2 separate regions of the Homo sapiens genome follow, and region 1 is linked to region 2. A link means that fine-mapping ties the variant in region 2 to the expression of a gene that starts in the linked region. Tissue or cell type: unexposed skin. Region 2 holds a variant in brackets; the other region holds the start of a gene. All regions are shown on one strand. Distances are between the middles of the regions.

What was found. PIP is the estimated chance that this variant, and not a neighbour inherited with it, causes the effect.
Region 1: it holds the start of AMDHD1, and the variant in region 2 is fine-mapped to the expression of AMDHD1 in unexposed skin (GTEx, PIP 0.99).

Annotation. Positions count from the first base shown.
Region 1 is chr12:95,940,272-95,945,271 of GRCh38, reverse strand. AMDHD1 (amidohydrolase domain containing 1) reads right to left here and starts at 1,941. Exons shown (of 9, transcript NM_152435.3): 1 at 1,737-1,941. The coding sequence starts at 1,873. It overlaps CCDC38 (coiled-coil domain containing 38), which reads left to right and starts at 2,658. Exons shown (of 16, transcript NM_182496.3): 1 at 2,658-2,841.
Region 2 is chr12:95,968,125-95,975,870 of GRCh38, reverse strand. It overlaps HAL (histidine ammonia-lyase), which reads left to right. Exons shown (of 21, transcript NM_002108.4): 21 at 1,499-3,209. The coding sequence ends at 1,639. It overlaps AMDHD1 (amidohydrolase domain containing 1), which reads right to left. Exons shown (of 9, transcript NM_152435.3): 9 at 7,151-7,746. Among named protein-coding and RNA genes, the nearest start is that of HAL, 24 kb to the left of the region's middle. RefSeq lists enhancers at 4,475-5,120, 5,121-5,766. The variant A/C (reference allele first, on the strand shown) is at 2,880.

The DNA.
Region 1 (5,000 bases), 29 kb after region 2:
AGACCACAAGTCAGCTCCCTCCTTTTCCTTTCCCTACTTTTTGTGGTTTTGATGTGAACATAGAACATGTCTTGGAACCCAGGACTTCATGTTGGTGCATTAGTATCATTTTATTTATGTATTTATTTATTTATTTTTGAGACAGAGTCTCGCTCTGTCACCCAGGCTGGAGTGCAGTGGCGAGATCTCAGCTCACTGCAACCTCCGCCTCCCGGGTTCAAGCGATTCTCCTGCCTCAGCCTCCCGAGTAGCTGGGATTACAGACGTGCGCCGCCATGCCCGGCTAATGTTTGTATTTTTAGTAGAGATGGGGTTTCATCATGTTGGCCAGGCTGATCTCGAGCTCCCAACCTCAGGTGATCCACCTGCCTCAGCTTCCCAAAGTGCTGGGATTGCAGGCGTGAGTCACTGTGCCTGGTCGCATTGATATAATTTTTATAAGATACTCCAGTCCCAACCCAGGTACATATTTTTCAACTTTCTAAGCAAAATTTTAAATAATATTTTCATAGTAAATTGGGAATGTTTTCATCCCTTAATTAAAAATAAACCAGTCAAGCTGGGCGTGGTGGTTCACGCCTGTAATCTCAGCACTGGGAGGCCAAACCAGGTGGATGGCTTGAGCCCAGGAGTTCAAGACCAGCCTGGGCAACACAGTGAGACATTGTCTCTACAAAAAATACAAAAATTAGCCTGGCGTGGTGGCGTGCACCTGTAGTCCCAGCTGCTTGTCAAGCTGAGGTGGGAGGATGGCTTGAGCCTGGGAGGTGGAGATCGCAGTTGAGCCTGGGAGGTGGAGCCAAGATCATGCCACTGCACTCCAACCTGGGCAACAGAGCTAGACCCTGTCTCAAAAAAACAAAAAATAGGCTGGGCGCAGTGGCTCATGCGTCTCAAAAATAAATAAATAAATAAATAAATAAATAAATAAATAAATAAATAAAATTAAACCAACCCACAGTCCCTTAAAAGCTGGGCTCTTGCACAACCCTAAACTGCCTCAGATAAGCCGTGGTCAGTTTGTGAGACTCATTGATCGTGTGCAATTGTGGTCCCATGGCACGCTTTGGATTCAAATTCTCATCCAACTTCCCTTGCTACCCCAGGTCGCCCTCAAACTTTGTTCTTTTATTCATATCTGGCAGGAAGCTCAGATGAGTAAGAGAAATATCTTGTTTTCTGATGGTCAAATCTTGATTTATTATCACTCAGGGCCATTATCGTCTAAATGTTCTCCGTGGTTCTAAAGCTTTAGTGTACGAGATCACGAGGATGTGAAAGGTACTTTTGAAAAATTCAGGTCTCAGAACTCCAGCCCCAGTGATGCTGATTCTAAAATTCTAGGGATAGGGAGTGGGGGACGCAGGTGGAATCAGAAATCTGCCGTAAGAATAAAATAACCACAGGCCACCCTGACAAAGGTGGTCTTCTGGCCTCCCTTTAAGAAGCACTGGGGAGGACCTCAACCCCTTCTGATGGTTGGACAGTGATATTTTACCAGCAGAGGCAGGACCCTGATGCGTTCCAATGGGGTGTTCCTCTCTGAGCTCTTTGGACGGAATGACAACCCCAAGCAGCAGAGCGTGTTAGCAACAGGTACCCCAAAGGCTGGCTTGCCCGTGTATCTCTGTGCAGGGACGCTTTCACGGCGTTGTTTCCCTCCAGAGTGCACAGTGAGAGGAAGAGCGGCCAGCTCCGCCCGTGGCGGTCCCCACCCTGCGCGCCCGGCCACTTACTTGCCCACCACCAGGCTGGCGCCTTCCAGCACCGCCAGGCTGCGCAGCGCATCCCGCGCCAGGAAGCGCTCGCCGCGGGCGCACACCAGCACCACTTGCTGCGCGTTCTCCAGCAGGAGGCTGTGGCCGCTTGCCATGTCGCCTCGCGCCGAGGGTCGCCGGGAGGCCACCGGGCTCGGGCCACCGGCAGGACTCAGTGGAGGACGAAAAGCCGCAGCCTGCGCTGTCCGGGGCTGGGAGGGTGGGGCGGGGGCGGGCGCTCGCAGCCGCTGCCCTTTGCTCGCCTCCCCCAACCACAGCAACGGGGGCGGTAATCATTGCAAGAATGGCAACGAGTAATAAACCTGATGAGGAATCCTCTCTTTTTTGGTCGTCTTGTCCCATCCCGAGTAAACGAGATGGAGACTAGTGTCCCTACTTTTCAGATAAGGAAACTTAAGCTTGGTCACCCCGAGAGATCAAAGTGAGCTGTGTGGATCACGTGGTATGTGGAAGCGCGTCAAGGGTTGGCTGGGTGAGGGCACCCGGAGTGTTCGGGAGTGAGGGACCGGAACCTGGGGTAGAGCCCCGGAAGGGGGGCCATGGGGGAAACCTCTGCCCGGGGGGTTGGGGTGGGAGCCTGGAGATAGCGCTCCTGGAGAGGGCAGAGTAGGGGAAAGCTGTGCCCAGGGGCAGGGACGGGAGCTTGGAGGTAGAGCCCCGGGAGAGGACAGAGTGGGGGAAACCTCTGCCTAGGGTGCTGGGACGCGAGCCTGGAGGCAGAGCCCCGGGAGGGTACTGCGTGGAGGAAACATCTGCCCACAGGTTCTGGGGCGGGAGCCCGGGACGCGGAGGGCCGCGAGCCGAGGGAACCTGGGGGTGGGGAGGAGGGGGATGCGGTAGGGGAGGTGCTCCTGGGTCCGCGCGGGTGGCGGGTGCCCCGCACTTATCCGTTGGCCAGCTGCGTTCCGGGATCAGCTACCAGACGGTCCCTGAGATGACCGGGAACCGGGCTGGGGGAGGATAGAGCCGAGACTGGAGGATCGATTGGCACCTCCGCCCACTTTTCCCACAACGCCTTCCCGAACGATAGGTTGGAAAGGCTCCTGGATCCAAACTCGCTGAGGTAAAATAGGTTTCAGCTCAGTGTCCGCCCCTCCGCATGCCCCCTCCCACCCCTCAGCTGTGTCTGGTGGGCCTACAAGCAACTTGCGACCAAAATTGGAGACAGAATCAAGTTTATGGAAGATGGTCTGTGATTCTCAGCCTCGTCGCTTCCTGCTACCAATTGCTATGGAAACACTGCCAGGCCCAGGCTTTTGAGTCCTTAATTACTTGATTTCGTTTATTCATGTTTATCACAAGCTCTGTGTTAAGTCTTGTGGAACATACAAAGATAGGAAAGGCGCTTTCCCTGCCCAGTAAAGACTTTACAATAAAAGTGATAGATGTGGACACAAATAATATACTATAAAAGCAGACTAAGCCTGCAAACCCACAAAATATAAAAGTTAATTTAGTCTCATTAAAAAAACCTGGAACAGAAAGCAAACACTCCTTTAGATGACCACGATAAATAAGAATATAATTTAGCTTCATATTATGGCCTATAAAAGAGAGATCAGTTAGGAAAGAGAAAGATAAAAATTGGAAAATATATAGACAATGTGAGTGAAAGAGACCCTAAGGGTGGGGGGGAGGGGGCATCAGAAGATTATTCACAGCTCATATACACAATCACAAACAGGTTGTTTGTGTGTGTGTGTGCATAGCTTTTAAAAAGTTTATACATACATATATTTCTATGTCTTTAAAAAGAGAAGTAGAAATAGTGGGGAATAGAAACACATAAAGTCACTAATTCACAGAGAAATATTAAAATTTTCTATTATAAAATTTCTGCTGAAGACTTTAATCAGTTACATTTTGCAATTTTAGGCATATTTGCAGAACTATGCAATTGTATGTATAAAGGATGGGTTAAAATTATAGAAAAATAGGGTTCAATAAACTTGTCTTAGTCTGAGTTCTGTTTCCTATAAGCTGTTTGACCTTGGGGAATTTCTTTACAGTAATTTCTCGAAGCCTCGTTTTCTCATCCTCATCATAGGGAGAGCTGTTTCTACTTTATGGGCTTGTCTGAGTTTTAAATAAAATAAAACATAAATCACTTAGCCCAGTGCCCAGCTCTAAACAAGTAATAGGTATTATTACTATTATTCGTGTGTTTTAATCCTGCTATTTGTCTTCCTGGCCAATTAAGTTAAAGATTAGATTTCAGCCAATAGTATAGTTCCTCTCCTGACTTCACAGACCATGTACTTAAAGCTTGCAAGTTCTGGGTGAGTCTAAAAGAAATTATATTTCTTTTTCATAGGTATTTATGTTTGTGGGTGAACTGTGCATCTGATTCACAGTCCAGACAGACAACATTACCTGATAAGCTCCTGCAAACAGGAGGTTTGCAAAAGCAGAAAGGATGAGTGAATTTCTTTCCTTAGTTACTGTTCAGTAGTTATAGATGGATAAGGATGACACATTTTTCCTTGGTAATAACCAACATCCCGATAGCAGCTCTTATAAAATACTTTTCACATTATCTGACTTGTATATGCTGACTCCTTAACCCATCCTTCCTTCCTCTTGACCTCCAGTTTTTTTTTTTGTTTGTTTGTTTGTTTTTTTTCACTTCGCAAAAGGGGCAGTCAGAAATGTCAACAGAAGCGTCCATACTAAATAGCCTGACGCCAGCAGTGCCTTAAAGGTCAAGGTGAAAGTAATTTCCTCATCATTGTGCTGTGCTCTGACCTAGTCAGAAGCGGCAGCGTGCATCTAAGCAGGCCAAGGACCCAGTGGCTCCTGGCTTTTAGGTAAACAAAAAATTGCTAACTGTGATCTCCCCACACCATCCAAGGACACAGTTCACAGCCCCTTTTCCTAGTATTTGTCCAAGGTAGGCGGAGAGGAGGTGGGAAAAAAAAATGGAAGGGCATTGGGTCTGAGAGAACCAGTCTAAATCCTCATATGCATGTGAAGATAAACATTGCTTTTTATCTCACATTGAGATCATCTGGAAATTCGTTTTCATTGGGTTTTAGAGGGGGTTGTTGCAAAAAAACAAATAAACTGATTCGAATAATATCTGGTAGACAGTGTTATTATTCATTTTATTTAGAGTTGGTTTAGAAACTTAGGACTGGGCCTTATCAAATCCCACTCCTCTTTCCCCACTTCCCCTGGAGCTCAGAATGTTAAGACTCTACATGAAGCTGATTCAGGTCCCCC
Region 2 (7,746 bases):
TATCGTTTTTGAAGTGCTTTAAACCTTTTGAATAACTTGTGGGTGTTATGTTCCCTAGAATCGCTTGATTTCCTTAAAACAGTTGCTCTGCTCTGGGGCAGTGATTTTTCCCTGTGATTTTCACACCCATTATTTCTAAGCATGCCCTGCACTCTGGATGGGGAAGCTGCTTGCCTGCTGCCAACTTTGGTGCTAGGAGGGAGGTATACGAGAGGTTAGCCTTTAAGAGTATTCATTTGCTAAGGTCATAAAAAATAATAGGAAAGGCTCCTTGGCTGTCAGTGGCAATCAGTTAAAAAGCAGATATAAACCAAAAACAGGGCCTTAATTTCATTCAATTTAAAAAAAAATTTTTTTAGAGATGCGGGTCTTGCTATGTTGCCAAGGCTGGACTCAAACTCCTGGGCTCAAGTGATCCTCCCACTTTGGCTTCTTGAGTAGCTGGGACTACAGGCACATGCCACCATGCCCGTCCAGGGCCTTACTTTGAGATGATGTTATGCTTAAGAAAAAAAAAAAAAAAGAAAAAAGAGGTTGGTGGGTGGGAGGCAAAAGCTAACCAAGGATCTGAGGCAGTGCCTCTCCAACATTAAAGTGGCTATGAATCTGCTGGGCATCTTGTTAAAATGCAGGTGTGGATTCAGTAGGTCTGGGTGAAGGCCAAGATTCTGACTTGTCCCAGGTGATGCTGATACTGCAGGGGCACAGGCCACGCTTTGAGTAGCAGGGTCAAAGGAACAGAGCACCTGTGGCATGGAAATAAGGCAATAGGGAAATACAATTCACTGCCTTTTACCATTTAAGGCTTGCTTTAGAAAACACACAGGTCCAGGCCATGTGTGGTGGCTCACGCCTGTAATCCCAGCACTTTGGGAAGCTGTGGTGGGTGGATCACTTGAGGCCAGAAATTCGAGACCAGCCTGGCCAACATGGTGAAACCCCATCTCTGCTAAAAATACAAAAATTAGCTGGGCCTGGTGGCATGCACCTGTAATCCCAGCTACTCAGGAGGCTGAGGCACAAGAATTGCTTGAACCTGGAAGGTGGAGGTTGCAGTGAGCTGAGATCATGCTACTGCACTCCAGCCTGGGCGACAGAGTGAGACTCTGTCTCACAAAAAAAGAAAAAAAACAAAAAAACAAGAAAAAAACCACATAGGTACTGTTAAGACCCTGGAGCAACTATCCTTCACTCTATCCACACTGAATTCTCTGGGTTTTGTTATTTGCTTGCTTGTTTTGCTTAGGAAAAGTATGCAGCTTAAAATCTTTATGATGACTTTAGAAAGTTTTGGACTTTGTATATTTACAGTCTTTAATGCAACCAAAGACTAATTGACACAGGTCATGTGTCAAATGGCTTAAAATAAAAGCAAGCAAACAGCAGCTGTGTCTGGTCATGTATAGAGTATGTTTTGACTTCGGATGAAGTTGATGTTTAATAGCATGTGGAAACAATGTCGTCAATATTTCAACTTTGTTTTGTCCTTGCTTTTCAGGTTTGGGAAGTAGCTGCTCCATACATTGAAAAATACAGAATGGAGCATATTCCAGAATCAAGACCTCTTTCTCCAACAGCCTTTTCACTGCAATTTCTGCACAAGAAATCCACCAAAATCCCGGAGTCTGAGGACCTTTAATGGGCTTTGTCATGAAGTAGCAGATGAGAGGGCAGTCAGTTTAGCACAAAGCAATACTAGGCTGAAGGAGAGACCTGAGAACTTTCCTAGGTAGATCAATCCATTGTATCATTCAGTTCTTCTAAAGCCTACGTTGGTTAGGCTGATGGCAGTATTATAGTTGCTAAATTCAGCACTGTGTTCCTGTTGTCGTGGTTCAAGACCCACCAGGTATTTTCAGATTATAAAACTTTTCTTTCTTTCTTAACAGTTTCAACAGGCCACTCACTCTTAAGGGTGAGAAGAATAACCACAATTGTATGTGCCTGTTTTTTACTCTTAGCATTAGATGAATTCAAATTTGGAAACAGATTGATAGCAATTTTTTCTAAAAACATTAGACTTTTGTTAACCTTTTTTTTTTTTTTTAAATTTGCTTCAACAAGCTCTCCACCAGTTGACTTTCTTTGGCTAATTTTACTTTGCATGATATGCCTTAATATGCCTTCATAAATAACCATTTTAAGTCATAATTTGTCCTTAAGCTGCTTTTTTCTTCTATTAATTGGATCATAGTAAAGAGTAGTCAATAGGGTCTTCAGCTATTAATTGTAGAGGTGATTAAAACCAACAAGGAGTTTCATGTGCAAAGGAGATAAGGAATGAATATAAAGATTGCTATTTGGGTGGCTCTTATTAAACTGTGTATTTTGTACTTATCACTACACGTATCCCCCAAATGCTTACATGGGAGTTTGAGGTTAGTATTTTCACTTCCTTGGTGTTAGTACTCTATTCACATTCTTATTGTAACCTTCCTCATTTCACAGATAAGGAATCTTTGGGGATTAACCAACCTCCTTTCTGTAATGGTAATCATTAAAATAAGTCCTATTGATAAAGGTCAGATGGAGCCCTAGAGTGTATTACTGCATCTATTTTTTTCCCCGAGAAGATAAAGGACCTTCAGGGATGGCTTAAGTGTATCTGTCCAGATGAAGGATGGGTCACATGACCTCTTGGCTTCCCAAGTCTAAGCTCTGTGACTTTGCACCAGTGTGTGCATATATGTGCAAGGCCCTTCAAGTGGTCTGAAACCGTGGCTCTAAAAACCACAGCTGGTGGAGAGGAGGACAGACACACTTGCCACCTTGCCTACCTAATTGCCATCTAAAATGGGCCGAACAGTGGATTTCACAATAGAGTTTTCACCCTTTAGATTTACAACCTGTCAGGTGGAAACTGAAGTGAAAACTGCTGC[A/C]CACAGCAATTCAGGGAGCAAAAAATGTGCTGAGGAGACTGTTTACCTAAAGGTTGTTCTTGGTGCTATTCCTTGTCAAAATGTGAACACACACAAATGAGGTTTGTGCATTGTCATCCGTGGGCTGCCATTGAGCCAGTAACCCCCAGTGGTCTCATGGTGCTCTTCGCTCCAGTTTGGGGAATGCTGGATTCTTTCAGCCCCTGCAGCCCTCCAGGTCAAAATGACACTTTGTCACTGAGTTTTCTACACAGCTCTATTAGTAACTGACAGCACACGCCTTCAAGGGAACTTCAAGGGAAACATGGAATAAACTAAGTCTCAATTGCCTTATGGTGTCGCTTTATTCTTAGGTATTTATAGCAAAGTTAAGCGCCTCTAACAGCAGTTAATCAAGCTTCTGAAGGATTCAGTTGACAGATGTCAACCGTTTTAAGAACAATATGCTTGACTCAGTACACTCTTTTTCCCATTGGCTAGCAACAAAAGAGTTGGAGGTATCAGGATTTCCTCCCCAGCCCCGCAGGCTCACCTGGTCTTTGTCACAAGTTGTCTCAGGGCAGCTGGAGGAGGCAAACCCTAAAGAACAAGGGCTTTTCAAGTCCCTGTTGTGCCACGTTCGCTAATGTCCTGTTGGCTAAAGCGAGTCACGTTCCAGGCCCAGAGTCAATTTGGGAGGGTAACACTCAAGGGCATGGGCATGTGATTTGACGTGATCCATGGGCCTGTATCTGACAATCTACCACATGCATAAAATCCCATCACAGGCTGGGTGCAGTGGCTCATGCCTGTAATCCCAGCACTTTGGGAGGCCAAGGTGAGTGGATCACGAGGTCAGGATTTCAAAACCACCCTGGCCAAGATGGTGAAACCCTGTCTCTACTAAAATTACAAAAATTAGCCAGGCACCGTGGCAGGTGCCTGTAATCCCAGCTACTCGGGAGGCTGAAGCAGGAGAATTGCTTGATCCTGGGTGGCAGAGGTTGCAGCGAGCCAAGATCGTGCCACTGCACTCCAGCCTGGGTGACAGAGTGAGACTCCATCTCAAAAAAAAAGAAAGAAAGAAAAAAAAGAAAAGAAAAAGAAAAAAAAGTCATTACAACCGGCAAAATTCAAAAGCAGATACATTTCATACTGCTTTAAACCTGTGTCTGATTTTTGGGTCTGGTCACTGGATTGCTTTTTATTAAACTTTATGGTTCTCTTTATGGTTCATTTTGCTTTTTTTTTTTTTTTTTTTTGAGATGGAGTCTCGGCTCTGTCACCCAGGCTGTAGTGCAATAATGCTACCTTAGCTCACTGCAAACCTCTGCCTCTTGCGTTCAAGCAATTCTCCTGCCTCAGCCTACCGAGTAGCTGGAATTACGGGTATGCGCCATCACACCCGGCTAATTTTTGTATTTTTAGTAGAGATGGGGTTTCACCATGTTGGTCAGGCTGGTCTTGAACTCCTGACCTCCAGGGATCCACATATCTTGGCCTCCCAAAGTGCTGGGATAACAGGCGTGAGCCACTGCTCCCAACTCATTTTGCCTTTTTGCTTACTTTTGTTGAGAGTATTAATTTATTAAATGTAAACATTGTAAATGTAAATGTAAATGTAAAAAATAGTTGGAGAACATTAGTTTCAGCCCAGAGGGTAGACTTCATTAGTCTAACATACAAAAGACAGTTAAATTACAATGCTACAAAGGCTATCATAGAGATGTGGGAATGTGGGGAAGGGCGTCCAGCTCCAGTTTCCCATGTAAGGAAGAGAAGGAAAGCATTCTGGGCAGAGGGAACCGTATTGCATGGCCCTGAGCAGCTCACTGTCCCCTAAGGAACAGTGTGAAGATTGGTGTGATTAGGGCTTAGAACTCAGAGCTGCTCAGACCTTAATGTGCATGTGAATCACCCGGGGCTTATTAGCATGCAGATTCGGACTCAGCAGGTCTGGGTCCAGCCAGAGGTTCTGCATTCCTAGCAAACTCCGTCAGTTGCACGGGCTTGCAGCACGCTGGCCTGGGAGGACTAGGGCAGTTTGGGTAGATGTCTTTTTCTGTCTTCTTTCAAAAAAGGCATGAATGCTATTTGTTTAAAGTGAGTGCCTCCTAGATGAAAAATCAGATGTGCTTCTCCTTCTTGTTTCTTCAATAGAAGAATCTAATCTTGTGTTGCTTGAGTTCCAGGGAAGACTCGACCTAACATTCCGTTTTGGCTTTTATGTGTATCTCCTGCGCCCCAAATGTTCAGTGCCTAGGTGACTGGTCACAGGGGAGCCATCACACACAGCAACTGTGTGCCCCCTACACTGTCTCAAGACTTCTTAAATAATCGCATGAGGTTCAGAGCTCCAGAGACCCCATTGTGATTGTGTCCGGAATTGGTGGGTTCTTGGTCTCACTGACTTCAAGAATGAAGCCGCGGACCCTCGGGCTGAGTGTTACAGCTCTTAAGATGGTGCGTCTGAAGTTGTTCGTTCCTCCCGGTGGGCTCGTGGTCTTGCTGAGCTCAGGAGTGAAGCTGCAGATCTTCGTGGTGAGTGTTACAGCTCATAAAAGCAGCGTGGACCCAACGAGTGAGCAGTAACAAGATTTATTGCAAAGAGCGAAAGAACAAAGCTTCCACAGTGTGGAAGGGGACCCCAGCGGGTTGCCAATGCTGGCTCGGGCAGCCTGCTTTTATTCTCTTATCTGGCCCCACCCACATCCTGCTGATTGGTAGAGGCTAGTGGCCTGTTTTGTCAGGGCGCTGATTGGTGCGTTTACAATCCCTGAGCTAGATACAAAGGTTCTCCACATCCCCATCAGATTAGTTAGATACAGTTTCCACACCCAGGTTCTCCAAGGCCCCACCAGAGCAGCTAGATACAGAGTGTCGATTGGTGCATTCACAAACCTTGAGCTAAACACAGGGTGCTGATTGGTGTATTTACAAACCTTGAGCTAGATACAGAGTGCCGATTGGTGTATTTACAATCCCTGAGCTAGACATAAAGACTCTCCCTTTGGGAGGCCGAGACGGGCGGATCACGAGGTCAGGAGATCGAGACCACCCTGGCTAACACGGTGAAACCCCGTCTCTACTAAAAATACAAAAATTAGCCGGGCATGGTGGCGCGCGCCTGTAGTCCCAGCTACACGGGAGGCTGAGGCAGGAGAATGGCGTGAACCCGGGAGGCGGAGCTTGCAGTGAGTCGAGATTGCGCCACTGCACTCCAGCCTGGGCGACAGAGCGAAACTCCGTCTCAGAAAAAAAAAAAAAAAAAGACTCTCCACGTCCTCACCAGAGCAGCTAGATACAGAGTGTTGATTGGTGCACTCACAAACCTTGAGCTAAACACAGGGTGCTGATTGGTGTATTTACAATCCCTGAGCTAGATATAAAGACTCTCCAAGTCCCCACCAGACTCAGGAGCCCAGCTGGCTTCACCTAGTGGATCCCGCACCGGGGCTGCAGGTGGAGCTGCCTGCCAGTCCTGCGCCATGGGCTCGCATTCCTCAGCCCTTGGGTGGTCGATGGGACTGGGCGCCGTGGAGCAGGGGTGATGCTCGTCAGGGAGGCTCGGGCCGCACAGGAGCCCATGGAGTGGGTGGGAGGCTCAGGCATGGCGGGCTGCAGGTCCCGAGCCCTGCCCCGTGGGAAGGCAGCTAAGGCCCGGCGAGAAATCGAGCACAGCGCTGGTGGGCCAGCACTGCTGGGGGACTCAGTACACCCTCCGCAGCCACTGGCCCGCGTGCTAAGTCCCTCACTGCCCGGGGCCAGCAGGGCTGGCCGGCTGCTCCGAGTGCGGGGCCTGCTAAGCCCACGCCCACCCGGAACTCCAGGTGGCCCGCAAGCGCCGCACGCAGCCCCTGTTCCCGCTCACGCCTCTCCCTCCACACCTCACTGCAAGCTGAAGGAGTGGGCTCCAGCCTTGGCCAGCCCAGAAAAGGGCTCCCACAGTGCAGTAGGGGGGCTGAAGGGCTCCTCAAATGCCACCAAAGTGGGAGCCCAGGCAGAGGAGATGCCGAGAGCAAGCGAGGGCTCTGAGGACTGCCAGCATGCTGTCACCTCTCATGATGACAACAATGTGCAATGTTACCCTTAACCTTCCAGTGAGGGGCATTTTGAGTTGCTTTATATTGACTACAGCAAAGCCTCATTCATTCAGGCTCTATTAAACTGAAATTAGTGATCACTTGGAGAGTTAATCTTTACTTCTCAAATCATTTCTTACCAAGTTTGGTAATGCAGTTGTGATTATAAAGATGATCGAAACACTTAAAAAGATTTCAAATCAACTTACATGGCTTTTAAAAACACCCATTTATATGTAAATAATTATCGACTCTTTACAAATAATTTTGTAATTTCCTAAAAACTCTAATAGACAACGCTGCTGATCTACTTCCAGGCTGAAAGGAAACAACAACAATAAGAGCGACAGCAAACATTTATTGAGAGCTGTAAAATGTGTTTCACCCAATTGTAATGTAAAGAATCGAAAATTTTAAAAAATTTCCAAAAAAATTACATGATTGTAGTTGGTAAAAATGCACCCATTTCAGGAAGGCCCCTGTGCCTGTGTATAAATGATGTGTCTTGAACGCTGCTGGGAAGCTCTATTGCTGAGATTGAGAAGACCTTAGAAACGGAAGGACACTCTTCATCAGAGGACATTAATTCATTTGACAAGCATCTAGAAAATGAACTACTTGGGGAAAGGAAATACTATTTGCTTAACAGAAGGCTATATTTTAGCTTCATTGGGGCGTATCACTTAGATTTCTTTCGATCCCTCAATGTTCACTAAATATAGTTTAAAAACTGAGATGTGAAATACAGACACAAAATGGAAATTTTAAGCCAAGCCTACTTTTCCCCACAAAGGCATTTTTGTGAT